2 separate regions of the Homo sapiens genome follow, and region 2 is linked to region 1. Evidence: fine-mapped expression QTL. Tissue or cell type: whole blood. Region 1 holds a variant in brackets; the other region holds the start of a gene. All regions are shown on one strand. Distances are from middle to middle.

Evidence for each region.
Region 2: it holds the start of TSPAN14, and the variant in region 1 is fine-mapped to the expression of TSPAN14 in whole blood (TOPMed, PIP 0.98).

What each region holds. Positions count from the first base shown.
Region 1 is chr10:80,497,594-80,512,393 of GRCh38, reverse strand. It overlaps TSPAN14 (tetraspanin 14), which reads right to left. Exons shown (of 9, transcript NM_030927.4): 3 at 7,616-7,666; 4 at 5,020-5,166; 5 at 2,923-3,093; 6 at 125-250. Among named protein-coding and RNA genes, the nearest start is that of TSPAN14-AS1, 31 kb to the left of the region's middle. RefSeq lists a silencer at 12,267-12,561 and an enhancer at 14,077-14,800. The variant T/C (reference allele first, on the strand shown) is at 7,337.
Region 2 is chr10:80,446,737-80,461,536 of GRCh38, reverse strand. TSPAN14 (tetraspanin 14) reads right to left here and starts at 7,227. Exons shown (of 9, transcript NM_030927.4): 1 at 7,166-7,227. RefSeq lists enhancers at 352-431, 6,112-6,161, 6,192-6,451, 6,401-6,918, 7,662-7,871 and 1 more and silencers at 6,582-7,631, 11,650-11,944.

The sequences.
Region 1 (14,800 bases):
AGAAAGCACACCTGCTCCTCAGACCTCCATGACAGAGAAGTATCCTAGAGCACTGGAGGAGTCAGGAAAGCTTCTGGGCTTCAGGAAGGGCGGGCTCCCTGTGCCCCAGCACAAGCCAACTCACCGCAGGATCTGGCACGCAGCAGGAGAAGGGGACCCCGCACTTCTCTCGGCTGTAGCTGGCACCGCTGCAATTGAAGTAGACGTTGAGGTCCCAGTCTTCAGGGCCATATGCGCCACAGCACTGGTTCTGCAACCACAAAAGCCAGAACTGTTAGGGGCTCCAAGACAGGGCCATGGCTGCCCAGCATAGGGCATCATTCATAGTGATGCCAGGCTAAGTCTGCCGGCATCTACCATGCAGAGAAATCAAGGCCCGCCCCCTACCTCCCATGTGCAGAGATGCTAAGCTGGCAACCCAGGCAGCCCTTTAAGAAGAAAACAGCTAGGCGTAGTAGCTCAGGCCTGTAACCTCAGTGACTCGGGAGGTTGAGGTGGGAAGATGGTTTGAGCCCAGGAGTTGGAAACAAGTCTGGGCAACACAGCAAGACCCCCACCCCCAATCAGAAAGAAAGAAAGGAAAGAGAGAGAGAAAGAGAAAAGGAGAGAAAGAAAAAAGGGGAGAGAGAGAGAGAGAGAGAGAGAGAGAGAGAGAGAGAGAGAGAGAGAGAGAGAGAGAGAGGACCTGCCCTTTTGATGTGTTAAAGAAAATAATAACAAAAAGGAAATGGCAGTGAAGGTATCTCCGGGCCACGGTGCCTCCTCTGTCCAACCCACATGGCTGGCTCAGTGGAGCCCTCTGGCCCCACTGCCAGGCACAACATACCCAGCCCTGGCCCTCCTTAGCAGGGAGCTTGCTCTTCTTCCCAGCCTCCTCAAAGGAGACGCCTCCTTCCAGCCTCCTCAGACAGGAGAGTGGCGTCCTCTCCTTTGTGGCCCCCTCGGCACCTTGGTGTGGTCCTCTACTTGCCACAAGAGAACACTTCCTAGTGTGCAGTGTTCTTCCTCCCTGAGAAACTTGCAAGTGAATTCCCCTTTTCACCCCTTTACAAAAAACAGCTGCTAAGTGTCTGCTCCTGAGGAAAAGAGGTCCGATGAAGGTGAAAGGTAACACAATCAAAGCTCTGCCCCACACCTGGGGCCTCTGCCCTCCCCTTCCTCGCATCTGGTGTGGCTACAAAGAAAATCCTTATTTGACTAAAAAGTGTGTAAAATCCAAACACTGAAAGCATCATTGTGAAGTTGACAGTGTCTTTTCCCCTAAAAAACTTCTTTGCATTTGCCCTTACAGCTGACATGGTTATGGCAATAATCACAACAAATGACAACAGTGATTTCTGGTTGGTTATTTTGTTTTGCTTACTTCTCAGGTAAAATTGTCTCCCCCACACCTCCACGGTTCCACTTGCTTTAGTGATTACCTGAAATTTCACTCCAAGGAAGCTCTGTAATTTACTGAATCCCTCCCCTGGGAAGTTTTGTTTTGTTTTGTTTTAATTTATTTATTTTATCTTTTTTTTGAGACGGAGTCTTGCTCTGTTGACCAGGCTGGACTGCAGTGGCGTGATCTCGGCTCACTGCCAGTTCCGCCTCCCGGGTTCACACCATTCTCCTGCCTCAGCCTCCCGAGTAGCTGGGACTACAGGTGCCCACCGCCACACCCCACTAATTTTTTGTATTTTTAGTAGAGATGGGGTTTCACCATGTTAGCCAGGATGGTCTCGATCTCCTGACCTTGTGATCCACCCGCCTCAGCCTCCCAAAGTGCTGGGATTACAGGCGTGAGTCACCGCGCCCGGCCAGAAGTTTTATTTTTAAAAGAAAAAGAAGTCAATGCAGAAAACTATGTTTTTAAGGCAATGCAGGGATGAACCGCAACCTAGCATGCTGAGACCAGGCAAGCCAAGGCTACGTGAAAATGAAAAAAGGACGGTGGCACTGAACAGAAAAGAAAGGAGAGGCATCAAAACATGGCGGGGATTTGGTGACTTTCACAGACTAATACACATTAGTAATAACAATACAGGCAGGGTCTTTGGTCCCATAAATGGGTTTTGCTGGATCCCATAATACATGAAATAAAGGTGAACAAGTTTTGGTTAATAATGAGAGTGAATCATAGATTTTTAATGGTTTCTGATTTATTTTCTTCTCAAAACCAAAGTGTTCCACATGAAAAGTTCTTAAGGAAGCTGGGCTTTCTGTCAGCACACAGATCAAACAAGAGCCTTGCATTGCACAGGCTGACATGGCCAAGGAGTGGGTTCCTCCCCAGGGGGCTGTGACAGCTATGGTCCAAGCGTCCAGGTGCAGCCACACATGAGAGAGATAAGAGGGATGGGGACCAGATGGAGTAAAGGCCATAGCCTGGAACTGCTTAGACAAACCCCTGGGCACATATTCCAGGGAGGTCACATTCCACTAGATCTGACAAAGCTTCCTCCAGGCAGCCCTGGCTTCTTAAACAGGAAGGGGAAAAGGTCCCAGGGAGGAAGGGGAAAAGGTCCCGGGGAGGAAGGGGATAGGAATAGCGTCAGATGGTGAGTCATGAGCCGGGGGGAAGAAGCTGTGCCTTACGGTATGCAGCGCCTAAGGAGGATTGCAGCTGGTATGGCTATTGGGCAGGATTGGAAAGATCTGGGGCCGAAAGAGGAGGGCCGGGCACGTGGGGGGTGGGTGGCCTCGGGTACAGCTGGACTTGCCTGCCCAATCCCAATGGGAAAGGGCTGGCCCACCAGGCAACCACAAGCCGGCAAAGTGGAACAGACCAGAGGTGGAGTGGCTTGTTCCACGGCCTCCCTGCTGTCTGCCAAGCTGCAGGCAGACAACCCACAGAGAAGGCCTGATGCCCCTGCTAGACTCAGCTCCAGGCAGCACAGGGAGGTGCATGCTCTATCGGGGGCCCGCTGGGGAGGTGCTTACAGCTTTCTGAAGGGAGTCGATGAGGTTTTGCAGATCGATATCGTCCCGGTAGGACTTGATGTTGCTCTCGAAGAACTCCCGGAACCGGTCCCTCACCCAGTCCTGGAACAGGAAGGCCAGCACGGCCACAGCCAGCTCCAGGAAGAAGATGAGCACGATGGTGCCACAGAACTGCAGGGGAAGGGGACGGGAGCAGAAGTCACCACCCCACCAGCCTGCACCCCCACACACATAACCCCACCTGACCCAGAACCACCATCCTCAGCAGAGCGTGGGCTCTGCACCTGAGAGTCCCACATCGGGGCCCCAGAACCCCACACTTAGAGTTAGCTGGGTGACTCTGCACAACTTCGCTTCATCTGTAAAAAGGGGCTATTTATCCCTACCCATGTCACTGCATTGCTGATAACACTCAAATGCGTGAAAAAGTGTGAGAAAGCTCCAAGCCAATGTGTCAATCACTTGCTATGAAGCAGCCCTCCTCCCTGGACAAGGAGGAGACCCCTATCACAGGAATGAATGGCTGTCCTACCCCAGCAGTTCCACCTGGACCCTCCAGGGTGGCATCCTGGGGTGTCGGCTCCTTTAGGACAGACACTGTGCCCAAGACATTATCTGATGACTCCCCACTACACACACAAAACCATCGAGTGCCTACGTATCTGTTACCTCACTTTAGGGATGAGGAAACTATGGCTATGTCACGAGGTACATAGCTTGCCTGAGGTCACATAGTTCATGCAGGACATGTGAGTTCCCTGCAGGGCTCTTTACAATTCTGGAAGTGCCAATGTTATCTGTACCAACTCTGCATGAAAGTATATGATCGTCAGCATAAAGACCCCTCCAGAAGCTCAGCTGCCCCAGGCCACAAGCAGTGGTGGCATTCTGCAAGGGGCCAGTGCAGCCACAGGTCCACATCCCATCAGGGCAGACTCCCAGCCTGCAGTCTGCGCTCTCACAGACATTATCACTGGCCATATAAGACACTAAGCAGCTTGCCACAACCGGCCAATTTGGAGTAATCTTTCAAAGTAAGAAAAAGCATACACACGGCCGGGCGCGGTGGTTCACGCCTGTAATCCCAGCACTTTGGGAGGCCGAGGCGAGAGGATCACAAGGTCAGGAGATGGAGACCATCCTGGCTAACACGGTGAAACCCCGTCTCTACTAAAAATACAAAAAAAAATTAGCCAGGCATGGTAGCGGGCGCCTGTAGTCCCAGCTACTCGGGAGGCTGAGGCAGGAGAATGGTGTGAACCCGGGAGGCGGAGCTTGCAGTTAGCCGAGATCACGCCACTGCACTCCAGCCTGGGCAACAGAGCGAGACTCGGTATCAAAAAAAAAAAAAAGAAAAGAAAAGAAAAAGGAAACACACATATGCACACAAGGCCTGCCAAAACGTAATCTCTGTTCATATAAAAGCAAGATGCTAAACATAGCTTTTCTTTTTTTTTTCCAGAGAAAAAATTAGGACAAAAAGCCCATAGTTTTGCTTTTAAAATTATGTCCAAGAAAAAGAAAGCTTGATCTAATGAAGTCAACAAACAATATACTGCAAAATATGATAATGTGTTTTCCCCACCAGGTGTTATTTAACTGAATAAATCTAAACATGAATTTGTATCTAAATATAAAACTAAACTCTTAGTAATCTGCAGTTCTGCCAGGAAATTTGGGATTCTGACTTGTACATCCAACAGACTCACACATCCTTGGAGGAGGGAAATGATTTAAGGTTACTTGCAACATCTTTTGATCTTAGCCAGGAAGGGCAAAGGACAGTAGCAGACAAACAATTCTTTTAGAATTTCTGAAGGAAGATAAAAGGCAAAGGAGCGGGGAGTAGAGCTGGCCTATAGGCAGCTGGCTCCTCCCACCCAGGGCTAAAAACCAGAGGGTACCTAATTCTCCTGCTGGGAGGAACCAGCTTCTCTAGACAGTAGAGTGCAAATGGCTGCCTCCTGCTCCCAGGCAGGGGCCTAGGGGAGGCTCCTAAGAGCTGCCACCTGCTCTGACCAGGTAACATATAATCCTGCCCAGCAGAGCCTGTACCCCATTGCATCCTATCCCACTCTTGTCTCTGTGGCCACTCACAAAGTTGAGCAAGCAGATATTCTCCCGCAGAGCCCCCACGCAGCCGGCGAACCCCAGGGTGAACATCACCACGCCCACCATCAGGACCAGCACCACAGGGTCGATTCCATGCATCCGGGTCACTTTGGTGAGGTCGGACAGCACACCCTGAAAGAGACAGAGAAAGCAGGGCAGCACTGGCCCAGAAGGGGAGTCAAGGATGCTGCCCTGGGGGATGCAGGTGGTACTGAAAACAGGGACTTGCTTCCCCAGGCTCAGCCCTCTTGTTGACAGCCAGGCCAGAGTCCGGCCCCATCCATGCCCTTAGGGGCCCCTCCGACCAGGCGATCCCTGCCCACCTCAGGTCCCAGAAAGTGTTCCTGGCCTCCACCTACGCTACAAGTTCCTCCTAGGCAGCCACCAGGCTTCTTCTGCAGCCTGTGGGGTGCCTATTCCAGGCCTGGAGGGAAACGGGGCCCTGTGGCCTGTGGTCAAACTGGTCACCCAGGTGGCTGACCTTGTTAGTCCCCCAATTTGGCACCTAATTAATGAAGAACACTACTCTTCTGAGATGAAAACAGCCTCAATATGAACACTCTAGTAGAAAACACGCCCAAGGGCAGGCCAAAGCAATGCTGTCCATAGAAGTTTCTACACCAATGGAGGTGTTTTAGACTATACCCCCACTGTCTGGCCACAGGTATCGTGGAGCACTTGAAATGTGGCTAATGAGACAGAAGGACTGAATTTTAATTTATATTCAATTTCAATTTAAATATAAACACAGTCACACAATGGGCAGAGCAGTTCCATAGGGTTTGTAAAACGCCAAGGGGGAAGCTAAGCCCTGGAGACTGAGTCATGTAGCATGTTTGCAATTCTGTTTCTTAGATTATGGTTGAACTAAGGGACCGGAGAGACCACAGCCCCCCTTCCAGTCACTGATCTCTGTTATAGTTTAACTGCTTCCTTCATTGTTCTTTACTAACTCAGATCAGATATCATCTAAGACCCAGGGACAATTACATCTTCAGTGTGGAATGTTAAACATACCTTTCCTGAAAGAAAAAGACCGCCTCAACTAATCAGAACATTGTGACTAAGCATCAAGACATACATAGGTGTCTGGGCATGGCGGCTCACGTCTGTAATCCCAGCACTTTGGGAGGCCGAGGAGGGCAGATCACTTGAGGCCAGGAGCTCAAGACCTGCCTGGCCAACATGGCAAAACCCCATCTCTACCTAAAAATACAAAAATTAGCCAGGCATGGTGGCACATGCCTGTAATCCCAGCTATTTGGGAGGGTGAGGCACAAGAATCTCTTGAACCAGGGAGGCGGAGGTTGCAGTGAGCCAAGATCCAGCCACTGCGCTCCGGCCTGGGCAACAGAGTCTCTGTCTGGCTTTGGCTGGATAAATGATCCCAAGCTCCTACATTTCGAACAGGAAGGCTGACTTCCATTCTTTGGAATTTGTGCTTCCTGGGTAGGCCTGTCCTCAACATGTGTGCTTGAATAAACTCTCTCTAAACTAGGTTCTGGCCTTTTCACTTATTTTAGATCGACAGATTCAAAGGAATTGTAGTAGCCAGCTCCACACTCAGGGCCACACCCAGTTAGGCGGCTGCAGTCCCAGGGGAAGCCACACGGTGGTGCTGTGAGGCACAGATTGAACCTGCTTCTGGGTCACTGGGGCAAAGGGACATCGTACCCCAGCTCTTGCCCTTTAGGGGTTCACAGGCCACTTGGAAGGTGCCCAAACCTGAAGGTGGGCCTTATCCAGTCCCTAAGACCATGGCAGGAAAGCCTGTAGACCTAGGTTCTCCTGCCTCCTCCTGCTGGAAGCAAAGGGAGGTTCCACTGAAGGAAGAAGGCCTAGGCTCAAGACACTAGAGGAAGCTTTATTCCTGGCTCTTTCTGGCCAGGCCTGCTCCACCTTACTGCTTCCCTCCCCTCCCCTCTTCCCTCCCTGGCCTTTTTCAGCCCTCACTGCCTCCCCAGCACCCCTGCCACAGGGCAACAAGCAGCAGCACAGCCCCACCCTGCCCATATCCAGTCTCATCCCCTTCCTGGAGCCGCAACTGCACCATGTCCTTCCCGACAGTAGGAGCCAGGTCTCCACTCCTCCCCTCTCCTCCTGAGGCTGGGCAAGGAGGCCCAGAGGTGCTTAAAGGCCCACCCCTGCCCCACAGGGCACCCTGGGGGCATGTCACCCAGCCCCGCTCCCTGCTGCCTGCTCTTTCTCATCCTGGAGGATAAGGGCTTCCACAATAAGCATGCCTGTATTCAGGGACCTGCCCGCTTGCTCCCAGAGGCACAGACAGGGTCAGGAAGCTGGA[T/C]TGCCCAAGCCTGCTCTGGGCACAGCTGCATACAAGAGCTGAGCTCTCCACATCCACAGGGCTCAAAACCCAACCAGCCCAGCCCATACCTCCAGCAGCCAATACTATCATGTGGGCAGAGTACGCAAGAGCTGTGTCTGTAAAGATTGACAATTATACACCTTGACACTGCACAAGAAATGCTTGTTGTCAGGGAACAGATTGGAGGAGGGAAAATGAAGTCCAACGAATCTGGTTTTGGCTGCCTGAAGCTCAGTGTCCTGCGACAGTTACACCTACCTTTTCGCTCCATGCCCACAGCCCGACTCCAAGGAAGACAACTCCAGCCAACTAAGCGGGGCAGAGGAAAGAGAGAAGGAAGTTAGGTTGGAAACCAGCACTGTGAACATGCTTCACAGAGCAAAGTCCACACTGCCAGGTAGGGCATGCTCCTAGCTCACATCCCACATGGCCCCTCAGGCCCCGCAGATGACAGATAACCTGAACCTACCTTCCTGAATATCTGGACAAACTCCTTCAACCTCAGATGACCCTATGCCCCAGGGAAGGAAGAGGAAAAGATCTCAGAGCGGACTCCACCCTGGAGAGACTATGGGTCACAGACATCAGGCTGTGCTGCTTCTTCCCCTTTCTGCAACCCTGAACTCATTTCAGTGCACTATCTGGTGTATACGAAGACATCACCCCTTGGGAGGGCTGACCCAGGTCCCCTCAGAGGTTCCCAACACAGGATGAGACTGCATAGGACCAGGCACCACCACAGGGTGAGGACAGGGGGAAACAGCCCAGCATCTCTGCCACACACCCCAGCTCTCCAGCCCTGGAGATAGACTCCAGGCACAGATAAGCAGCTATCCAGTGGCCCAGGCCATTCACTGGCCAGGGCTGAGCCTCCTCCCTACTGTTAACTACAATGAGCAGGGGGCGCATCTATGCTCAGGAAAGGCTGGGCTTTTAGCTAGAGAATGAAAATAGGCTTGCTCTAAGCAATGAGCTCGCCCCAGAGGAGCACCACCCCCAACCCCAACTTCCCACCTGCAGGAACCCATACCCCATGTGCACCACAACAGAAAGGCGCCCACCCAAATACATCACACAGGTTCCTGAACCAGGGAGGGCTTTTCCATATACAACAAAACACAACGTGGGCTCTGTTAATAAAGCTGCCTCCTGTTTTTCTGTGACTACTTTACACCACACTGGCATTTCACTGCCATTTATCACCATCTCACGATAAATAACAGGACCACGCTTCTCTATGACTACCGGTGATCTCAAGCCTTGAGCCACTTCTACCTATTTTACTCAGTAACTAGCCCCAGGGGCTAGAATGGAAAGAAAGGGCTCAAGGAAAGCCCCAGGAAGTCTCATCCAACCTGAAAGTGATCTGTGATCCAACCTCTTCTGGATCACAGATCACTTTCAGAAAATGCACACATGCCCAGTATTTTGCATGAAATTTTAGAGGGGTCACAGCTTCCCACTGCTGGCTCCCACAATGGTCTGTGAACACTAAGTAAAGAACCCCCACCAAGAACCAATCCCTCCATTTTACAAAAGCAGAGCACTGGGGCCCAGGGAGGGCCAAGACCAAAATGTCAGGCAGTGGGGAGAAGGGCTGAATCACAAGTCTCAGTTCATTCATTCACTCCTCACTCATTCATTCAACAAATATTCACGGAGTACATCCCGAGTGCCAGATACCGTCTCAAGTACTGGATACAGCACCAAGCCAAGGGGGTAGAGCCCTTTCTACCATATCACACCACACCCTTTTCCCGCTTCTCAGTCCTCCCCCTGAACTGACTAGCTGGGAAGGGTTTTCCTGATAGAATGCATGACCGCTTCCTTTCCCTCCCCAGGTGTCTTACACTGGCATGCTGAGCAACCTGAAGGTGACTGGTCACCACCTGCCGAATCCTGCAGGCTCCATCCCCACCCATCTTATTCAAGGCCCCCAGGGACCTGCCTCCCTCTTGCCAAAGCTGGAGGCCAAGACTTTTCCTCATGGTATCTGACCTCATTGGTCACAGCTGGTCATTCTCTCCTCCTCCAACCATTCCACTGACACACCCTGCTTCGGGGACCCCAAGCATATGCCCCTGACTGCCTTCCTCCCTGCTCTTCCTCCTCCTCCTCCTTCAGACCCCTCTAGATGCTGGTGGGCCTCACTCACAGTCCTAGCTCCTTCACCCTGCCCTGAGCCCTCTCGATGATCTCATAATTCACAAGGCTTAAATACCATCTAAACATTGCTGAGTGACACACTCAGATGTCCAGTCCTGGCCATGCCCCCGGTCAAATACCCTAATGTCTACTTTACTTGTCCTCCTAAGACAGCTAACGATATTTTACTCTTACTGTGCCCCACTACGCAGCCTTGGTCCCCCAACCCCAACCGAGCTCCCCCCAACTCTTCTCCGTCTCATTCAGTGGCACCACCGTCCACCCAGCAAGTGTAAGAGAGAAAACCCAGACCCCAGGCTTGGTGCCTTCTTTCTCTTTTGCCCTACACTCAACCCAGAGGACCCTCTGCTGGTTCTGCCTCCAAATACACAGTGCATTCGACCAGCTTTCCTCCAGTGTCTCTGCTCCCACCTGCCCCGGCTCCACCCACTCGAGTCTGGATCCCACGGGGCTCCTCACTGGTCCAAGCAACAAGACTGACCCTTCAAAAATACAGAGCTGGGAACTCCCCTCCTCGAAACTCTGCAGTGACTTCCCACGCAGACCTAGAAGAAAATGCACGGTCTCTCCCATGGCCCCCAAGGGCCTCTGCAGCCAGGCTTCACACACATCTCCCACGGCATCTCCTTCCCACCTCCCTGCTCCAACGCCACTCCCTGGGCCACCCTGACATTCTTGTTTCTTGAAGTCATCAAAATCACCCCTGCCTCAGAGCCTGGACACTGTTCCCTCAGCCGGCAATGCTCTTCCTCCATATCCATTCCTGGCTCCTCCCTCACTGCGTTCAAGGCCTCCTTTTACCACCCTGAGTGGAACTGCTCCCCATCCTCCATGTGTGACCTCCTCTGTTGATTTTCTTCGCGGCACTGATCCCAGACCACAGGGGCTGTCTCTCTATTGTGTCTCCCCAGCTAAGCCCTTCTGAGGCCAGAGATGTTACCTGTTTTGTTCAGAGTTGCAGCCCAACAACGAGGAGGGCTTGGCCCTCAGTAGGCACAGAGCAGGCATGAGTGACTCCCCAGGATTCAAGACCAGGACAGTGCTTGCCTGGGTCCTTCTAGCTACCCCCAGGCACACTTCTGGGTGTGATTCAATCCAAAGGCATTCAGAGCAAATGTGGGCCAAGAAAAGCTCAGCCTGGCCCAGGTGCATGGGTCAAGCTCTATACAGGGGCATTTGCCTATGGTCAGAGCAGAACAAGCCCAGAGGCCGATGCCCCATCCAGCATTCCCAACAGACATTCCAGCCCCTGCCTAACAGCTTTCCATGACAGTCCGCTCATCCTGTGGGGCCACATGGGACAGGTGAGAAAAGTCTACCTTAAGGACACTCAACAAAACCACTGCTGGAGCTCCCCTCTCTCCTCCACACTGCACTTCACAGCTCACCCCTTCTCTCACCTTGACTACTAAGTCTGACTTCTAAGGGTATTGTTTCCCACATTAATACCAGCCTCAGGCTGAGAACAGTGGCTCACAGCAATTTGGGAGGCTGAGGCAGGAGGATTGCTTGAGCCCAGGCGTTCAAGACCAGCCTGGGCAACATAGCAAGACCCCCATCTCTTAAAAAAAAAAAAAAAAAAAAGGTTTTCTAAAAAAATTAGCTGTAAAAAAAAAAATGCCTGTATTCCCAGCTACCAGGGAGGCCGAGGTGGGAGGACTGCTTGAACTTGGGAGGTCAAGGGTGAGATTGCACCACTGCACTCCAGCCTGGGTGGTAACAGAGTAAGACCAGGTCTCCCAAAAAAAAAGAAAAAAAAAAAAAACAGCGTCAGTTCCATCTATATTAATAGGTTTCTGTGAATTCACGCTGAGGTGCTGTTTTAGTTGTTTTGTTCTCCTAGGTGACTAAATAGTGACTAAATAGATACAATAGGAAGAGGTGACTGGTTTCACAAAAGGAATTTTGGTCTGCACAAGTTCTCAAAAAAGACCCTCGACCTCAAGAGCAGTTCATATCCCCACCCTCAGGGGCACAGTGCCCATGCAAAGGTAGGCCTGCTCCTGCTCACCTCTGTTCCAATCGCCCCTTCCCCACATGCAGGGCCGCTGTAGGGCCGCTTACCGCTCTGCATATGGCCCACAGACCACACCCTCCCTCGCTTGCTGTTCTTCTCAAGGCCCCCAGGGAAAGCCCTGGCTGACTCTGTGTTTACTGGGGAAGCCAGCTCCCCACCACTGCGTGCAGTTCTCTTTCTCTCAGCTCTAAGAATAAGGACTTGGCCAGGCGTGGTAGCTCATGCCTGAAATCTCGGCACTTTGGGAGGCCGAGTGCTGGGAGGCCCAGCACTTTGGGAGGCGGATCACCTGAGGTCAAGAGTTTGAGACCGGCCTCACCAACATGGAGAAACCCCATCTCTACTAAAAATAAAAAATTAGCCGAGCGTGGTGGCACATGCCTATAATCCCAGCTACTCAGGAGGCTGAGGCAAGAGAATCACTTGAACCTGGGAGGTGGAGGTTGCGGTGAGCCAAGATCACGCCATTGCACTCCAGCCTGGGCAGCAAGAGCAAAACTTCGTCTCAAAAAAAAAAAAAAAAAAAAAAAAAAAAAAAAGAATAAGGCCTTGTGTTGTTTTCATTCTGTTTTAAAGGAAGAACTAAAGTTAACTCACACCGGAAAGACAGGAACTTGGGGATCACATGTCAGATCATGGGTTCAATGAACAGTGGCCCAGGGCAGGAACTCTGAGTACCAACAAACCTGGTTTCAGAGACCAGGAGATTGAGGGAGGACTAGACAGGGGAAGTGATCTGCCTGAGAGCTCACATAACGGTCCCATGAATGAACTGGGTCATTGGCCCGCTTCACCCCACGGAACCCTTCCCTGGAACTCTGCAGCAGATGGTCCATGGGGCCAGGCCAGGTAAGCCCTGGCTGCTGTGAGCCCTGGCTGCCAATCTTCTGGGAGTGAGGGTTCAGCTGAGTGCCCTCCAGCCTCAAGTGACCTTCTTTGTCTCCCTCCCATGACCTAATTGAATTACCTACTGAAGAACGGGGCCCAGCTCCGGCCCAGCTTGAGGAGAGGCCAGCCTCCTCTGCTGGACCAGCGAGCACCTAAACTGCTATGGTCACTGTGAATAGCTGCCCTTTCCTGGGAGCTGTGCGCTGCATTAAATACTTAATGGACCTAAGGCTATCCCTCCATATCCCATAACTCTGGCTCAATTACCCTCATTTTTCACATGGGAAAGCTCAAATGTAGAGCAATTTGGTCCTTTGCCCAAGGTCACACGGCTAGCTGGTGGCAGACTTAAGAACCAAACCTGGATGCCTCTGACCCTGGCAACACAGTATCTTACCACCCACAGAGCAGCTGCCTTCCACACACGGGCACTCACACAAGAGCCCGGGGATGTAGGAATTCCACAGGGGGGCTTTGGGGTTGTGCAGCTCTACAGCCAAATGACCCACACTGTCAGGCAGTGAGACCACGCTGTGTCCCAACCAGGGCAGGTGGACAAGGCAGCAGGGCCTCTTTGTGGGTCACTGTGAAGATTAAATATTGACCTTTCACCTTAGGCAAATGACCTTGCGAAAGGCAGGAGGTCCTCTTGGGGCACTCTGGGCTGGTCCAGCCAGAGTCCAGACACAAGAAATCCACTTACCACACGAGCAAGCTTGTGGTACTTTACCCAAGCACAATCAAGTCACAAAAGGAAGTGACACCCGGCCAGGCCCTGCTGAACTGGAGGAGAAAGATGCAGCTCCAAGCAGGTCAAAGGCAGCCTCTCACCCATGATTTAATGGCCTTGGCTCCTTGCAAGATTTCATTTAAGCGTGTATAAAAGTACTTGGCAACTCCTGCAGGCCCCAGAGGCCTTTCCTCAGCAAGATCAAGGCGAATCACCAGCAGCAGGCGATGCTCTCAGGCTCTGCCCTGCTGGCCTCCGGGTCTTGCACAATCCACACGCTGACTCAGCCTGACATTCACAGAGCCTCTTCCCCTGAACAAAGCCGGCCCTGGGTCCAGTCTCTGCTTTGTAGCTACCTAGTGACAGGGCCTCATGCGAGTCCAAGACCTTCTCTGAGCCTATGTTCTCTACAAAACAGGGATTATCTTTCCTAGGTCACAGGAAGGTTGTAAAGATTGAAGGAAGATCCTACGTGACATGCTTACTCCAGGCACAGAGCCAGTCTCAAGGTGGCCATGCCCTCCCGCACGGCAGACAGAGCAGAGATGTGAGGGGCGTTCAAGGATATGCCACAAGCATCTGCTGTCCTGAAGACAGAGTCTCCTTCTCTTGACACTGGTGTTCTGTACCCCACCCCCAATTACTTCCAGCACCAGCTTCTGTCCTAAGACCAAGTGCTTTCCAGAGGCACCTGTTTTACTGGGCTTCTGGAGACAACAGTGAAGCAGAGCTTAGGGAAATACGGCCTTCTGGAGGCTTTTCAAGTGAGGTAGGAAAGGATGATGGAAAGAAAACAGCAGAGAGTGGAGGAAGCCAGGACTGAGTCTCAGCTTTGTCCCTAACTCACAGAGTCAGGGTCTCGAGGAAGCCATCCCTCTCCTGGGCCTCAGTCTGTCAATCAGCAAAATAAGCAGCAAGGACCCATGCACCTCCCACTGGCTGAGTTTTGCCATTATAAATTACACCAGACGGAAACCCCAGGGTCCTGGTACTCTCCAGAATAAGAAATCCTGAATCCAGGCCTGGGGCATTCAGGAAACAACAGAGATGCTTGTGGCCACTTGAAATGCTGACGATTGAATAGAATTTGAAGCCAAAAAGGACCAGAGGGTGCAGACCCCAGACCCAACCTGGCCTGAGAGCCCAGTGGGCCAAGGGAGGAGCTGCAGTTATCTGTCCTGTGTTGAAAGCCTGAACCAAGCCACTTGTCAGTGGGAGTTCGGAAGGTCTGGGAGCCAGAAGGGATGCTAGGGCTCGGCTTCCTTATGACAGAGGGAAACAGAGCCCAGAGCAGGAGGTGCCTTGCATGGGGTCACATAGCTATCACACCCCAGCTTTTCCTCCTGCCGGAAGGGTGGTTCTGAGAAAAGGCAACACATGTGCCCTCCCAGCAGAGCCAGCAAACCCATGTGAGGGCCCCAATGTGGGGAAGGACTGTGCAGAGGGCTCCAGGGGCAGCTTCCACAGCTGTCTCTGTGTTGCCAGATAACAGAGTTGACCCCCACTGAGCCCCGCCCAGGAACCTGAGTCAAGGCCCTGGAAATGAAGGCAGGCGGAGGGAGCACAGCCATTCAAGGGAGGTGATAGGCAGTACCCCCAGGAGAGAGGGAACCCCCCAACCTAACTTTGGCACAGTTCACAG
Region 2 (14,800 bases), 51 kb after region 1:
AATGAATCCCCCACCACTACCACCAACTCTGATTTTGGCATGCCCCCCTCAAAAACCTATCCACGTTTATACCATCACTTGTATTTCACAAGAAGCTACTAGAGTTACAAAACACAATGACTGTGGTAGGCAGGATGGCTGCAGAGAGCAGGGTTCTGGCACCACCACTGTTCCACTGCAAGGGTGGAAGCTGGCTACAGAGCCTTTAGGAAGGAGGGAAGGCCCCATCCACAGCCGACAGGTTTTCCTTACAACAGCAAGGGCCTGGTTCCTGAAAAGCTGACTGTTGAGACAAGATCAGCCTCAAGAAAAGGAGGCAGGCCAAACAGGGTCACCTGTGCAGGGTAGGCTGGAGGGAGCCGGCCCTCAAGAGAGGCAGAGTCTGATCAAGTAGACAGGAGGGCCAGAGAGAAAAGGAGGAGCCTCACTCATGGAGGAGGAACAAGGTAGGCTGGAGGCAGGGACTTGTAGGCCTCAGACAGAAGGAAGCTGGTGAAGCTCCCATAGGCAAAATGCCCAGGAGCTCCGGCTAGAAGGCAGCAGGAGTGTGCAGTCCAGGCAAGAGGAAGAGATCCCCCACAGCACCTCCCTCTGCCCAGCTCAGACAAATGGGACAGTCAATCCCCAGGCTGATGGAGGCGGGAGCGAGAACCACAAAGTTGTCAGACTGGTTTGCCCAGGACAGGGAGAGCAGGGAACACAAATTGCAGCAGGAGCTCAGCTTCAGGGGGCAGAAAAAAGCAGCAAAATTGGTGGGCTGTAGGGAAACAAGGACCCAGGTCCATGCGATTTCCTGGGTGCAGAGGGGAAATCCAGCAGGCCAAGAGCAAGGGAGCCAAGGGACAAGGGGCCAGCAGATGCTGAAAAGGACCAAGGTTTCTGGAAAAAAAGAGAGTGACACTTACAAGAAGGGACACCTACAAGGAGAGAAACCTGTCCCCTACTCTTACACTGGCCCAAGCTCAGGACCACTCACACCTGTCTCCTGAGGGACAGGCCAGTGCAAGAAGAATGGACAGGACACTGCCAACCACGGGATACTGACAGAGATTCTGTCCCTCACCAAACTTTATTCCTCTGAGCCCTCTACTCATCTGGTCCTGACCTAGGGTTCCTAACTCCATTCTCTCTAAGAGCCTAGTTTTAGCAAAACTCCTGTTAACCAGAATCCCCCAACCTCAATATCTAATCACCCTGGATATCTGAACGTATTTCTCATCCTGTACTATCTCCCAGGTAAAACCTGATCACCCTGGCCTGCCTGCAGCAAGAATTCAGTTAGCTAAGTTTAGTAAAAATTTCCCTACCCTCTTAGAAATTTTCAGGAGCCCCCACACTCCGCTCCTTGGCTATAAGTTCCCACTTTTCTTTGTTGTATTTGGAGTTGGCCCACTCTCTCCCCTCTACTGCAAAATCCATTGCGATAATTCCTACATCTATCGTAATAGTCCTGATACAGTCTACCTTACCAGTTTAACAAGTGTCAGAATTAAGTTTTTCTTTCACCAGCTCCCTAAGTCTTCCTGGACCCACTGCTCCCACCCCTCACTCAGGGTGTGTAAATTACTTGGTCTGGGGCTGTGGCTGACCTCCCCTAACAAGCCCCAGAAAAAGACCCTGTCTGCCTGGCCCAGGGACACAGGAGAGGACCCTCAGCACAGCTGGTGGGCACCCAGACTGGGGACAGACACACTCCTACTGCTGAGAGTCCCATAGCATCCCCAGGATCACCACTCAGACCTCGGGGTACAAACAAGAGATTCGGGAGAGGCCCATTTCCTTCCACTGCTGTGGGGCCTCTCTCCTGGATGTTAGGGCTCCGAACTCCTCTCAAGGCCGTGCAGTGTACAGGAGCACAGGCCCAACAGCTGGGACTGTCAACGCATAGTCAGGCAGGAAAAACCCAGAGAAGGTTCACTAGCCCCTTGTTCCAGTCCCTCCCCAAACCTTACCCATGCAGGACAGCCCAACTCCAGCTCTCCCAAATGCCAGGAAACACAAAGACTCTGAGGCAGCACCAGGAGCTCACCTCTTACCAGAATCCCAGAAGCCACTTTAGAGACAACTGCCCCAGCTCTCAGGCTCCCAGCTCAGGCCAGCACAGCCTAAGGAGGGAGGAGCCAGTTCCTCCAGCTATCTAGCTGAAAGGCACAGGCTCTAGGCCTTCTCCCTGGCTGCTCAGTTGGGAGGCAGTACAGACCGCAAGGGGTGAAGAGTTTCAACCCCAGCCTGCCCAGGCCCACTTAAGCTCTGGTCTCCAGGCCTGGCCTGCTGCCTCCTAAAAGAAAACCACAGCCCCACCCAACCCTACCCAACCCCACCAAGCCCAAGGGCGGAGGAAGTGAGGTTCCCAGAATCAGCTGCTGGTGAACACTTGCTGAGTGCCGCCAGAGATGGCAGCTGTCTCACACCAGTGTCAGGCCTAACTCAGGGGCTTTGGATCTTGCTTCTCAGGGTACTAATGCTTCACTGCAACCCCGTGAGACAGAAAAGGCAGACTTGATTCTTCTCACTTTACAGATGAGAAAAGTAGACAACTTTTTTTTTCCAGGAAGAAAAAAAAAAAAAATCAAAGACTTGTGTAGGTCACTCAACTAGAAAGTAGGTGCAACTTGAAAGCTTGCCTCACCACCGTCCACTCTGCAAGCTGGACAGTGTTATTCATCTTCACATCTTCACGTTTAATTGAGAGCGGCACTGGACACTGCCCCCCTGCCAGGGCCTGCGCTCCACCAAAATGGCTACTTGCCCTGTCTAAATCAAAAGCATACGCAATTAAGGGAGAAAATGGATGTGGAGATATTATGAATAACCTCCCTGATTCACAGTTACAGAGGACACTACTATAATGGAAGATAAGCAAACTGAAACGCTGGCATTCACCTAGACCAAAGACTCTCAAAACTTCATTCTACGCAGCTCCCTGGGTACTCTGATAGCCTGCCAAGAGTGAGACCACTGCTGGAGACCACCACCACCTCTCAATCCACTGGCAGAAAAACGGAGGCCCTGGAAAAGGTGGAAATATGCCTAAGCAGAGTGAGTTAACCATGAAGCAGAAGAACCTGAGGCCTCACCACCTCCAACAGTGTCTGCTGGCCCCGAGGGAAATCACCAGAGACCAAGCAGGTGACCAGGCACAAAATCAAGAGCCACAGTGTGGCTGACTCTTCAAAATCCTACTAACGTGGCCTGAGGGGGAAAATTTAACTAACAGGGTTCCTACTCCCTTCTACAGACCAGGGATCTAGCCCCACACTCAATCCCATCCCCAGTGGGAGTCCACCTTCAGTCACCTCGCTACCACTGCTTTCTACACCCCTATGCCTGCAAGCTCAATCCCCGAGTCCCACAAAAGTGGGGAGGACCAGGCCTGCCTGGGTATCGCTACCTGCTCCTGCTTCTAGGAAAGGTGGCTGCCCCTACAGGCCACATCCAGGTAGCGGATGGAACATGCAAGATATCCAAGGACTGACACGGCAGGGCAGAGACAGGCAGCAGGAACCTAATCCCCTTCCCATAGGCATCTTAAAGGCCACCAGGACTCAGTGGCAGGACACAGGGATCATCATGTTCTCTGTCCCTCTGTCCAAGCCACCAGGGGTGTTCCCACTAATCACTATGGGTCCCCCCAGTGAGGACAACATAAAGCAGATAAGTGATGAACATGCAGTGTGAACAAGAAATAAACCTCTGTTGCTTTAAGCCTCTGAGACCTGGGGATTGCTGTTACCACAGCAAACCGTGATCTGTCCAGACAGACACAAGCAGTGACTCCCCAATCTTCTGCATGTGGTAGTGCTGGTCTTCCCATTCCCTGGCCTTAGGGAGACAGAAGCTCCATCACCAATCAGCGGGGGTTCCGGGGTACCTGCTATGTGCCCAGGCTGTGCTGGACAGATGAGATGTGTTCAGAGGCAGGGATACAAGGGCACCTTCACTGAAAACATTCATTAGTTCCACTGTGGGCCAGGCTTGTTTGGTATATGAATCCATTTTAATCACCTCTGAGAGGAACATATTGTCTAAATTAGAAATGAGAAAACCTGGTCCGGCACAGTGGCTCACGCCTGTAATCCCAGCACTTTGGGAGGCCGAGGCGGGCGGATCACTTGAGGTCAGGAGTTCAAGACCAGCCTGGCCAACATGGTGAAACCCCATCTCTACTAAAAATACAAAAATTAGCTGGGTGTGGTGGTGCACACCTGTAGTCCAAGCTACTTGGGAGGCTGAGGCAGGAGAAGAATCACTTGAACCCAGGAGGCGGAGGTTGCAGTGAGCCGAGATCACGCCACTGCACTCCAGCCTGGGCAATAGAGTGAGACTCAGTATCAAAAAAAAAGAAATGAGAAAACCCAGCTCATATTGAGACTTCAAGCAAGTTACTCTGTGACCTCTCGGGACCACAGTTTCCTCATCTGTAAAATGGAGCTGTTGACATCACGGTTGTTTTGCTTTTTGTTTTTTGTTTTTTGAGATGGAGTTTCATTCTTGTTGCCCAGGCTGGAGTGCAACGGCGCGATCTCAGCTCACTGCAACCTCCACCTCCCAGATTGAAGCAATTCTCCTGCCTCAGCCTCCCAAGTAGCTGGGATTATAGGCATGTGCCACCACGCCCAGCTAATTTTGTATTTTTCGTAGAGACAGGGTTTCACCGTGTTGGTCAGGCTGGTCTTGAACTCCTGACCTCAGGTGATCCACCCACCTCGGCCTCCCAAAGTGCTGGGATTACAGGCATGAGCCATCACGCCCAGCCATCACAGCTGTTTTCAAGGATTAAATGAGTTATTACAAGTCAAACTTCTAGGGTGTAAGTCTCAATAAACTCACATTAGTATCACTATGAAATAATCTTGTCCTTCACTAAATTTTAAGCCAGCAAAGGTTTCCCAGGCCTGGCACAATGCCACTTTGCAGGCACTGCTAAAAGGAATTCTACCTCAGTTGAAGTTAAATGGGTCAAATTCCTGAGCACATGGTGGCATAGAGTGAGGCCTCAGGAAATAGTTCCAGAACCCAGGGCTTTCCTGCTCCCCGGCCTCCATGGGAACTTCACTTCACTGCCGCCACAACCTTCAGGGCAGAGCCATCTCCTCTCCCACTTCATACTGCCACTTCCTACATGAGAAGGACCTTCACCAGTCCTCAGAGACTAGCACAGCTGCCCAGCTGGTGAAGGGGACAATTCCCTGGGCAGCCAACCATTCTGCAGCTCCATGCCCTTTCTTCCTGGGGCAGCCACAAACCTTCAGAAGCACCCATGGGCTCAGACCCCCCCCACAACCCCGTCTCCCTAAATGATCCTGCTACGCTGAGATCAAGCTCAGATCAATAAACACTACTGAGCACCTATGCCATGTCCAGCCTGGGTTCTAAGACCACACCAAGTTCATAGCTGGTGAGGGACTTTCCAGACTTGGAATAGTGCCTGCAACAATGCCTCGCACCCCACAGAAATCTCAACCATGCTTTGTTAACTAAACTGAGGATGACATTAGGTGGCCCAAGCAGTGGAGTTCAGAGATGTGGGGATGGATATATCCAGAGTCTCCAACTGAAGTTGGGGTGCAACACAATGAGAAGGAAAGGGAAAATACATCTGGTGGCCCTGGGTTTCCAGGGCCTGTCACTATAACGTTAGGGATCGGAGTGGGATCAGACTGCGCGTGGTGGCTCACACCTGTAATCCCTGTGCTTTGGGAGGCTGAGGTGGGAGGATCACTTGAGCCCAGCAATTTGAGGCTATGATCACACCAGCAGCTAAGGGGATAGAAGGGCATACAGGGCCATTATGGTGGAGTCTGGGCTTCATTCTGGGGGTGCCAGGGCCCAGGAAGATCCCTGGAAAGACGGCCGCCCCCACCAACCACTCGGCTAGCTGAAATGTGGCAAGGACATAGGGGTGCTCCGATGGCCTGTCCCCAGGTTTCCCTTCACAAATAGAGAAGGGTGGCCGGAGCACTCAGCAGGCACTAACTGCTTCTGGACTTCAAGGTCAAGGGGCAAGGGGAAGGCTACTTTTGAGGATTTGGCAGGCCACTCTCTCACTAGCCCAAGAGCAACTCCCTCTCGGAAGGGAGGAAGATCCCCTGGAGAGCAGACCACTGCCAAGAGCACACCTGCAGAGGCTCCAATACAATGCTCTGCACAGCCGCCCAGCACCGCCTGACCTCCCGGATAGCAGCGCCAGCACAGCCAACGAGTGTGTGACACCGCCGCACTCACCACCGCTCTGCGCCCAGCCCCAGGCCAGTACCCGGGCCCACGACTTCCCCCGACTCCCCCTAGCACGGACTGTTTCTCGCCGGAGATCAACTTTAAGTCCCCAAGACAAGTGCTCCTGCGGTCCCAGGGCCAAAGTCCCTCCACACACCCTCACACAGGCACTTCCTACCCACCCGCACCCCACCCCTGGGGGTGGAGGAGAAGCAGCAGCGGCCCGGGACAAGCACAGTCCGCAGCCACAAACCTCACTCTACCAGAACTCCGGCTAGGTCAGGGGTCAGGCTTTGCTCCCAAACACAACCCCACACGACTAACGCGGAGAAGCTGGGTCACCGCCTACTCAAACTCCGGCCGTCCCAAACCCAAGCCGGGCAGAGTGGGACCCACGGCGGCGTGGGAGACTGAGCACAACCACGGCGGGGCAGGAGGAAGGGGCGGCCCGCCCCGGCCTACGCCCACCCCCACCCCGGACCCGATCTCCTGGGAGCCGAGGGTGGGTGACTGAGCCGAAAGGGTGGCCCATCCCCGAGCTCGCTGCTGGGGACGAGAAGCAGAGCCCCGAGCAGCAGCGGCCGTCCAGGCTCCCGTCGCCCTCACCCCGCCCGGCACGGGCGCGCACTCGCCGGGGCGCGCTGATGGGGCGAGGGCTACCGAACCAGGAGTGCCGGCCCCGGGCCCGCCGCGGCTCTCGTCCGCGCGGCGCCGGAGTTCGGCTCAGCGGGGTCCCGGCGGAGGCCTCCAACCTCTAGCGAGCAATCCTGGCAGACAAAGCCAGCGCCGCCCGCGGGGCCGCTCCTGGGCAGGCGGGGAGGGAGGCTGAGGGGCCAAACAGGGACCTAAGGAGCAGCCCTCGCCCCCGGAGAACGCTCGGGGAAGTCGGCCTCAGACAAAGAAAGGGGCAGGGCCCGACGCCCCAGCCAGGTCTCCGCGCTCTACTCACCCGCGCGCGGCGGCGGCAGCGGCGGCGCGGCCCGGCTCGGCCGAGGAAGTTAGAGCAAGTTCCGCGGCGCGGGGCGGGAGGGCGCGACTCGGGCCGTCCGAGCGGCGGGGGCGGGGCGCGGAGGGGCGCGGAGGGGCGGGGCCGGAGGCGCGGCGCCTGCCGTCTGCCGAGGAAGGGGCGCCGCTTCCCTGCGCCGCCCGGTGCGGCCCCGGGCGCCTGGGCCCGCCCTGGCCCCGCCCCTCCCCCAGCCGCCTCGCCCCTCCCCCACCGCACCCCGCCTCCCGGCCCGCGCGGCACCGGGGACCGCGAGGCCGGGTCGCCGGCCCGCCCCTTTGTCCCGCTCTGGGCGGTGCCGGAGGCTTGGGGCGGCCCCGGTCCGCGCCCTCCCAGTGGGTGCGCGGCGCAGGCCGGGCCTGGCCCGGGGCCGGGCACTTGTAGCCGCCGGGAGCGCTCTGAGCCGTTGCGCTGCGCAGACGCCGCTCTGGCCTTGTCGGAGCCGAACCTGGGAGAAGCACGAGCTGTGGGAGGCGGCGTCTCGAGGGATACACGGGATGACCGTGGAGAGCGGGCGAAGGATTAGGAAAATGGCTGTGGTGGAGATAAGAGGCGTTCCTGCCCGGCTTTGGAGCCTGGGGGCGGGGGTAGTCTTCAATCAAAAGAAGGATGGGGAAAAGGTTTTTATTTCTTTGTAAACCAAGGAGTAAGGACACGCTCCTTCTGGCCTTGGTGCTAAAAATACCAAGCTTTCTTTGGATCGTGGCTGAGATTTCTTCCTAACCTTTACGCTAAAGAGGTGGCTGGGACGATTCTTGTGGTGTAGGGGGGTTTCCAGGGACAGCCAGGGGTGGCGCCCCTCTTTGGATCGTGGCTGAGATTTGTTCCTCACCTTTACGCTAAAGAGATGGCTGGGACGATTCCTGTGGGGTAGAGGGGTTTCCAGGGATAGCCAGGGGCGGCTCCCCAGCCTCAGCCTCCCTACCTGTAGAATGAAGCATGCCACACCTCTGTTTCTTAAACTTATTCGGTGGCTGAGGGCCGAGTGGTCTTCTCTGTTGAGTAACACCAAACAGGGATCTATTAAAACTGGGCTAAGACTGGTTGCCACATGCCAGTACAAGCAACCAACAGGTTAATTCCAATGGAAGGAGGAAATCTTGAAATGGAGACTGTTCAGTCCATTCCCAGGTTTGTTTGGGTTGTTTTTTGAGCTAAGGTATCGCTTTGTCACCCAGGCTGGAGTGCAGTGGCATGACCATGGCTCACTGCAGCCTCGACCTCCCGCCTCAGCTTCCCCAAGTAGCTGGGACCACAGGTGCAGGCCACCACACCTAGCTAATTTTTTTTTTTTTTTTTTTGTAGAGACGAGATCTTGCTGTGTTGCCAGTGATGGTCTTAAATTCCTGGGCTTAAGCAATCCTTCCGCCTCTGCCTCCCAGAGTGCTGGAATTACACGCATGAGCCACGGTGCCTGGCTAATTTTATTTGTTTGTTTAATTAAGAGGGATGCAACCTGTCTGTGACAGCCCAGGCAGCTCTGGAAACTCCCTGGGAACCTGTCCATTCATTCAGCAGATAGTGAGTGTTTGTCTGAGTGCCTGATAATATGCCAGGCCCTGTGTGCATGGTGGGATACTTCAGTGAACAAGACAGCTGAGGCCTTTTGCCCAATAAAGTTAATTTTTAGTGGAGAAGACAAATACATAATCACAAGTTGAAGTAAAGGCTGGGACAAAAACAAGGGGCTAGAATAGAGAATAAAAGCTACCTTAGATGAAGCAGTCAGGGAAAGTGAGGAGGCGATGCTGAAATTGAAGTCAAAAGAGTAAGGAGTTAGCCTTGGGAAAAGTTGGGCAGAGACATTCCTCGCTGAGAGCAGTAGGTGCCTTTTCAGGGTAAGTTCTGGATGGGTCAGGGAACTGAAAGAAAATCAGTGTGGCTGAAGTTTTAAGCCTAGGGGAAGAGGCCCAGGATGGAGTGAGAAGGTGGGTGGGGGCCAAAGCATGCAGGGCCTGTGGGCTGTGTCAAAGAATGGAGACTTTGTTGAGCCTTGGAAGGGTTTTATGCAGAAGACTAACATGTTCTGATTTAAGGCTGTGTGTGGGTGTCAGGCAAAAATAAAAGCAGGGAGCCAATTAGGCTTGCCACAATCCAGGCCAAAGATGATGGTGGTTTGAACCAAAGTGGTGGTCATGCTAAGATGAGTAGTTGAGAGATGCTATTTTGGACTTAAGAGGACACATTGATAGGAAGGACATGGGGGCAGGAAATGGAGAAACCAAAGATAACTCAAGTTTCTGGCTGGGGTAAGTGGGTGGATAGTGCTTCATTTATTGGATCAAAAAGCATGAACCACATCTCAGGGAGTTACATCAGGAATTCTGTTCAAGCCACATGGAGCTTCAGATGCCTGTTAGAGAACCAGCGGGGTTATCTCATCACTAGGAACTCAGAAGAGAGGCCAGGGCGGGAGAGGGGCTTTGGGATACATCAGCATAAAGATGCTCAAGGCCACGGGATCTGAGAAGGACACACAGGGTGAGGGAGTAGATGCAGAAGAGGAGAGAGTTCAGGAGGGACCCAGGGGAACCAAAGCAGGCAAGAAGACTGAAAAAGAGACTGGGGAGGCAGAAGGAGAATCAGGAGTATCCCAGAGACTGAGAAAATGTTTCCAGAAAGCAGTTGTCAGCTGTGTTAGACACTGCTTAGAGATCAGGTAAGATGAGGACTGGGACCTGTTGGCTCTGGCAACATGAAGGCAATTGGTGAACATGATGAGGGCAGTGTTCCTGGAGTAGTGGTGGAAGCCATGCTGTGGTAGAGCTACCATATTTGCACAACTTGTCTAACAGGGAATGGAGAACTGGGAGGGATCTAGAAAGGATACGGAAGCATAGGATGCTTTGGTAGAGATTGCTAGATGCCCCTAGTAGTAATTCTCTCTTCCCTTCATAGAATTTCTAATTCTGTCTGGCCACATGGCTTCCCAGAATAAAGGCAAGTTTCTCAGCCTCTCTTGCAGCTACACTTCATTCCTCCCAATAGGAAGTAAGTGTAGGAGTCCATGTGCAAATTCAAAACTGGCTTTAAAGGGAAGTCATGTGCTTTACTCTTTCCTGCCCACTAGGATATATTAATAGATAGCTGGAGCTCAAGCATCCATATTGGATCTTAAGTGGAAGCCAAAGTGTTGAGGATGTTAGTGGAAGTGAGAATAAATGTGGATGCTAATGTGTAGGGAGCCACCACACATTTGGACTACTACCTCTTGACTTTCTTTATGGGAGAAGGACATTTCTGTCTTGTTTAATCCTCTGTTTTATGGCACATGTAGCCACATCTAATTCTAACATTTGTTGGAATAAAGAGGGGTTTGTTAAAATATGGGAGTCACTGAAGCAGGCTTGCACACTGATAGGAATGATCTAAGAAGAAGGCAGGGGCCATGATAGGAAGAGCAGGTGAAAGGAGATAGGGTATAGGCACTAACGAGGGTCACCTCCTACAAAGGGACGCCTCCACCATCATTAAGGAGAGGAGTGTGGAGGCCGAGGAGAGGTTTCCGGTAAAGGCTGGGATTGGGAAGATGATTACTCACACCTGGTGATTTCTGCTCAATCCTGCATGTGCAGGAGGTCATGAGCTAGAACAAGGAGGAAGGAGATGGGGAAGCCAGTTTTGCAAACCATGGACTGAGCGGTTTTGGAGATCTTGCTGGCCTGAGCAGCGTCTGGGAGATGTGTCCTTTCTGGAATAGTTGGCCACACTGCTGCTATGAAAAGTGTGGTGGGAATACCCACAAAGCCAGCATGGCCTTCCCTGCCATGCCCCAGACAGTCACATCTGACACTCACCTGCCATTCCCAGCTGTAGCAGAGACCCACAGAGCTTTATCTGACCCATTCTTTTTTTTTTCCTTTGAGACGGAGTCTCACTGTGTCACCCAGGCTGGAGTACAATGGCGTGGGCTCACTGCAACCTCTGCCTCCTGGATTCATGGGACTATAGGCACGTGCCACCACACCCAGCTAATTTTTTGTATTTTTATTAGAGGTGGGGTTTCGCTATGTTGGCCAGGCTGGTCTTGAACTCCTGACCTCATGACCTGCCCACCTTGGCTTCCCAAAGTGCTGGGATTACAGGCGTGAGCCACTGTGCCTGGCCTATCTGATCCATTCTTACAGCAACATGGAGTGGCTTGAGAGAGCCTCAGAGACACGAAATGCAAAACAGGTCTATTTTATTCTCCTTTATTAAAAAATAAAAAATTCAATATAGACAGCCCCAACTCATAAAAGGGTTGTATTGTAACCAGTGGTTTACCTTCCTGGCTAGCACCTAGAACCATAATTGCCAAGCATATAACTGAATTGTAGTGCAGACTGCAAGCCTAATGTATGGACTGTGGGAACAAAAAACAGTATAGGAAGGAGGAAAAGAAAAAAGCTGAGAGTTTCTTATCTTTTTCCTGGACCTGAAGCTGCCACAGATAAAATTGTAAGTGGAAGAGCTTGCCCTTTGTCTTCCCCTGACTTCTATAGCCCTCTGTGTCGGTCCCCAGTGCTGCACTCCCACCCTGGGCTCCACTCTGCAGCCTCTGTGTGTGTTTACAGGGCAATGGGCAGGTCAGGGTGAGATTGAACAGAAGAGGGAGTTGGTGTCCAAGCTCTCCTAGTTCTCAACATGATCTTGAGCAAACCACTTTACATTCCTGAGCCCTGCTGTTCTTATCTGTAAAGTCAAGGTAATACTAAAACCCACCTCACAAGCTTGTAATAAAAATCCAAAGAGATAAAGTTTGTAAAACTTCGAAAAATACTGGGTAAGCTGTAAAGAACTCTGTTACCCAGGAAAGATGTCTTATTAGGACCAGACTACCAAGGATTAGTCGGGACATTTTGGCTGGAAATGAGAACCCCACTCAGACTAGCTTAGGTCATCAAAGGGGAGATACTGGAAGGAGCCTCAGATTGCTCACAGAATTGAAAGAAGAACTTGAAACCAGAGTGACACAAAACGGGGCTGATCCTGACAACGTCCCAGAACGGGGGCCCTACCCTCTGTTTCTCCTAGTTCTCAGAGTTTGCCATGTCAGGTATGTGACTGAGTAAGTCTACACTCTTAAGTCGGTATGAACAAATCTCAAGAAAGGATCGACCGGGCATAGTGGCTCATGCCTGTAATCCCAGCACTTTGGGAGGCCAAGGCGGGCGGATCACTTGAGGTCAGGAGTTTCGGACCAGCCTGGCCAACGTGGTGAAACCTCGTCTGTACTAAAAGTAGGAAAATTAGCTGGGTGTGGTGGCGCATGCCTGTAGTTCCAGCTACTCAGGAGGCAGAGGTGAGAGAATCGTGCTTGAACAGGGGAGATGGAGGTTGCAGTGAGCTGAGATTGTGCCATTGCACTCCAGCCTGGGCGACAGAGGAAGACTCCATCTCAAAAAAAAAAAGAAAAAAGAAAAGAAAAGGATCCTAATTGGGTCAGCTCTGGTCACATATTCACTCCTGGACCCATTCTTACAGCAACATGGAGTGGCTTGAGAGAGCCAAACAAACTCTGACACAACCAGCGTGATGAGGGAGATGAGATATCGTAATTGGACTAGGTCTGGGTCACATGCCCATGCCTATGATCAGTAGGGCAAGGCCTATGCAGAAGAAGGGGTAGTGGTGTGTGCAGGGCCAACATCATCATTTTTAGCAGTCTTCTATACCAAGTATTCTTTAGGCCCTGGGCAGGTTTTAGGCAGAATGGTGACATTGTTATATCTGTACTTTAGAAAGATCCCTAAGGCTGGAGTGGGAAGGGAAGGTGGGAGGGAGCAAGATTGGAATAAAAAATGGTTAGAAAAGAAATGATGAGGAAATAGAAAGAGGTGGACAGAATCAAGATATATTTAGGAGCTGGAACTGACAAGTGACTAATTGCATGGGAGAATGAGGAATAAAGAGACATCATATTCTGGCTGCGTGGGCAGTGGCGCTATTCACTGAGAAGGAACACAAGAGACCCTGTGTGGATGTATAATATGTTTGGTGAGAGGTGATGCCTTAGACCTCTTCCATTTGAAGTGTTCCTGGGTAGGGTGGAGAGGTGCAATTTGCTGTATGGAGTTAAGAGAGACAGCTAAACAGAAGTTATCAGTTTGGAAGTTGTATCCATTTGAAATTGTGTTTAGCTTTTCTAACAATAACCCAAGGCCAGGTGCGGTGGCTCACATCTGTAATCCCAACACTTTGAAAGGCTGAGGCAGGAGGATCACTCGAGCCCAGGAGTTTGAGACTAATCTGTGCAACATAGTAAGACCCCATCTCTTTAGGAAAAAAAAAAAAAAAAGAAAACAGAGAGAGAGGAGAAAGAGAAAGAGGGAAAGGAGGGAAAAGAGGGAGGGAGGAGGGAAGGAAGGAAAGGATGGAGGGAGGGAGGGGAGAGAAAATAGCAACACAACTACATTGCCTTAACTACATTCAGCTTTCTCGCTGTAGTTGTAGGAAAAAATTCTGACACAACAAGAAGTCTAAAGGTAAGCAGAGCAAGGCTGATCAGCAGCCCCACAACGTCATCAGGTCCCAGCTCCTCTCTGTTGGTGTGTCTGGCTCTCCTTAGGGGACAGAGTTGGCTTGTGGTCATACAATGGCTGCCCCAGCTCCAGCTTCCCACCCACATTCCAGACAGAAGAAAGAGCAAAAAGAATGAAGGGGCAACACCTAAAACTTACCCAGAAATCCCCAGACTACTGCTTATGCCTCACTCGCCGAGTGCAGTCACATGACAAACCCTAACTCCAAAGGAGGTTGGGAAATGTTTAAAAAATTAACTCCTGTTTTAAAGAAAGAAGGGAGAATCGATATTGAGGAAGCAGTGTGTGATAATTGAAATCATCAGAGTAGAGGAGATTATTTTGGGACTGGGAGATGAGAAAAGGACCAAGGACAGAATCTTTGGAAAACGAGAGAGCAGAGGGACCAAAGAGACTGAGGAAGACTGTCCAGTGAGGTAGGAGAAAAGCCAAGAGGGTGGAATGGATGGAAGTCCAGGGGCAACAAGTGTTTCAAGAAGAGGGGAGTGGTCCAGTTTCCAGGGCTGCAGAGGGCCAGTGAAACAAGGCTGAAGAGCAACCATGGGGTTAATAGCTTCAGAGAACTGTTTCAGTGGAGAATTGGGTCAAAGACAGTTAACAGTGGGCTGAACAGCAATTGGAAAATGAGAGAGAGGTTGTTAACTGGAAGATGATGAGGATAAGCAGTTGCAGGAGGGTGTTTGTTTAAGAAAGGAGAGACTTGGGCCAGGCACGATGGCTCATGCTTGTAATACCAGCACTTTGGGAGGCCCAGGTGGGAGAATCGCTTCAGCCCAGGAGTTCCAGGTGAGCCTGGGCAACATAGTGAAACCCTGTTTCTATTAAAAGAAAATAACAAGAAAAACAAAGGAGAGACTCAAATATGTTTAAATGATGAAGGGAGAAGGCAAGAGAAGAGGGGAGATAAGAGAGTCTGAAGGAAGAGAGAAAACGCTTGCTGGAGAAGGTGGGAAGGATTGGTGTTCAGAACAAGAGGAGAGCCCCAAACTGGAGGACAGCAGGACCTTCATAGAGACAGGAGGCAGGAAGACAAGCTGGGTGAGGATGCAGATGTTTG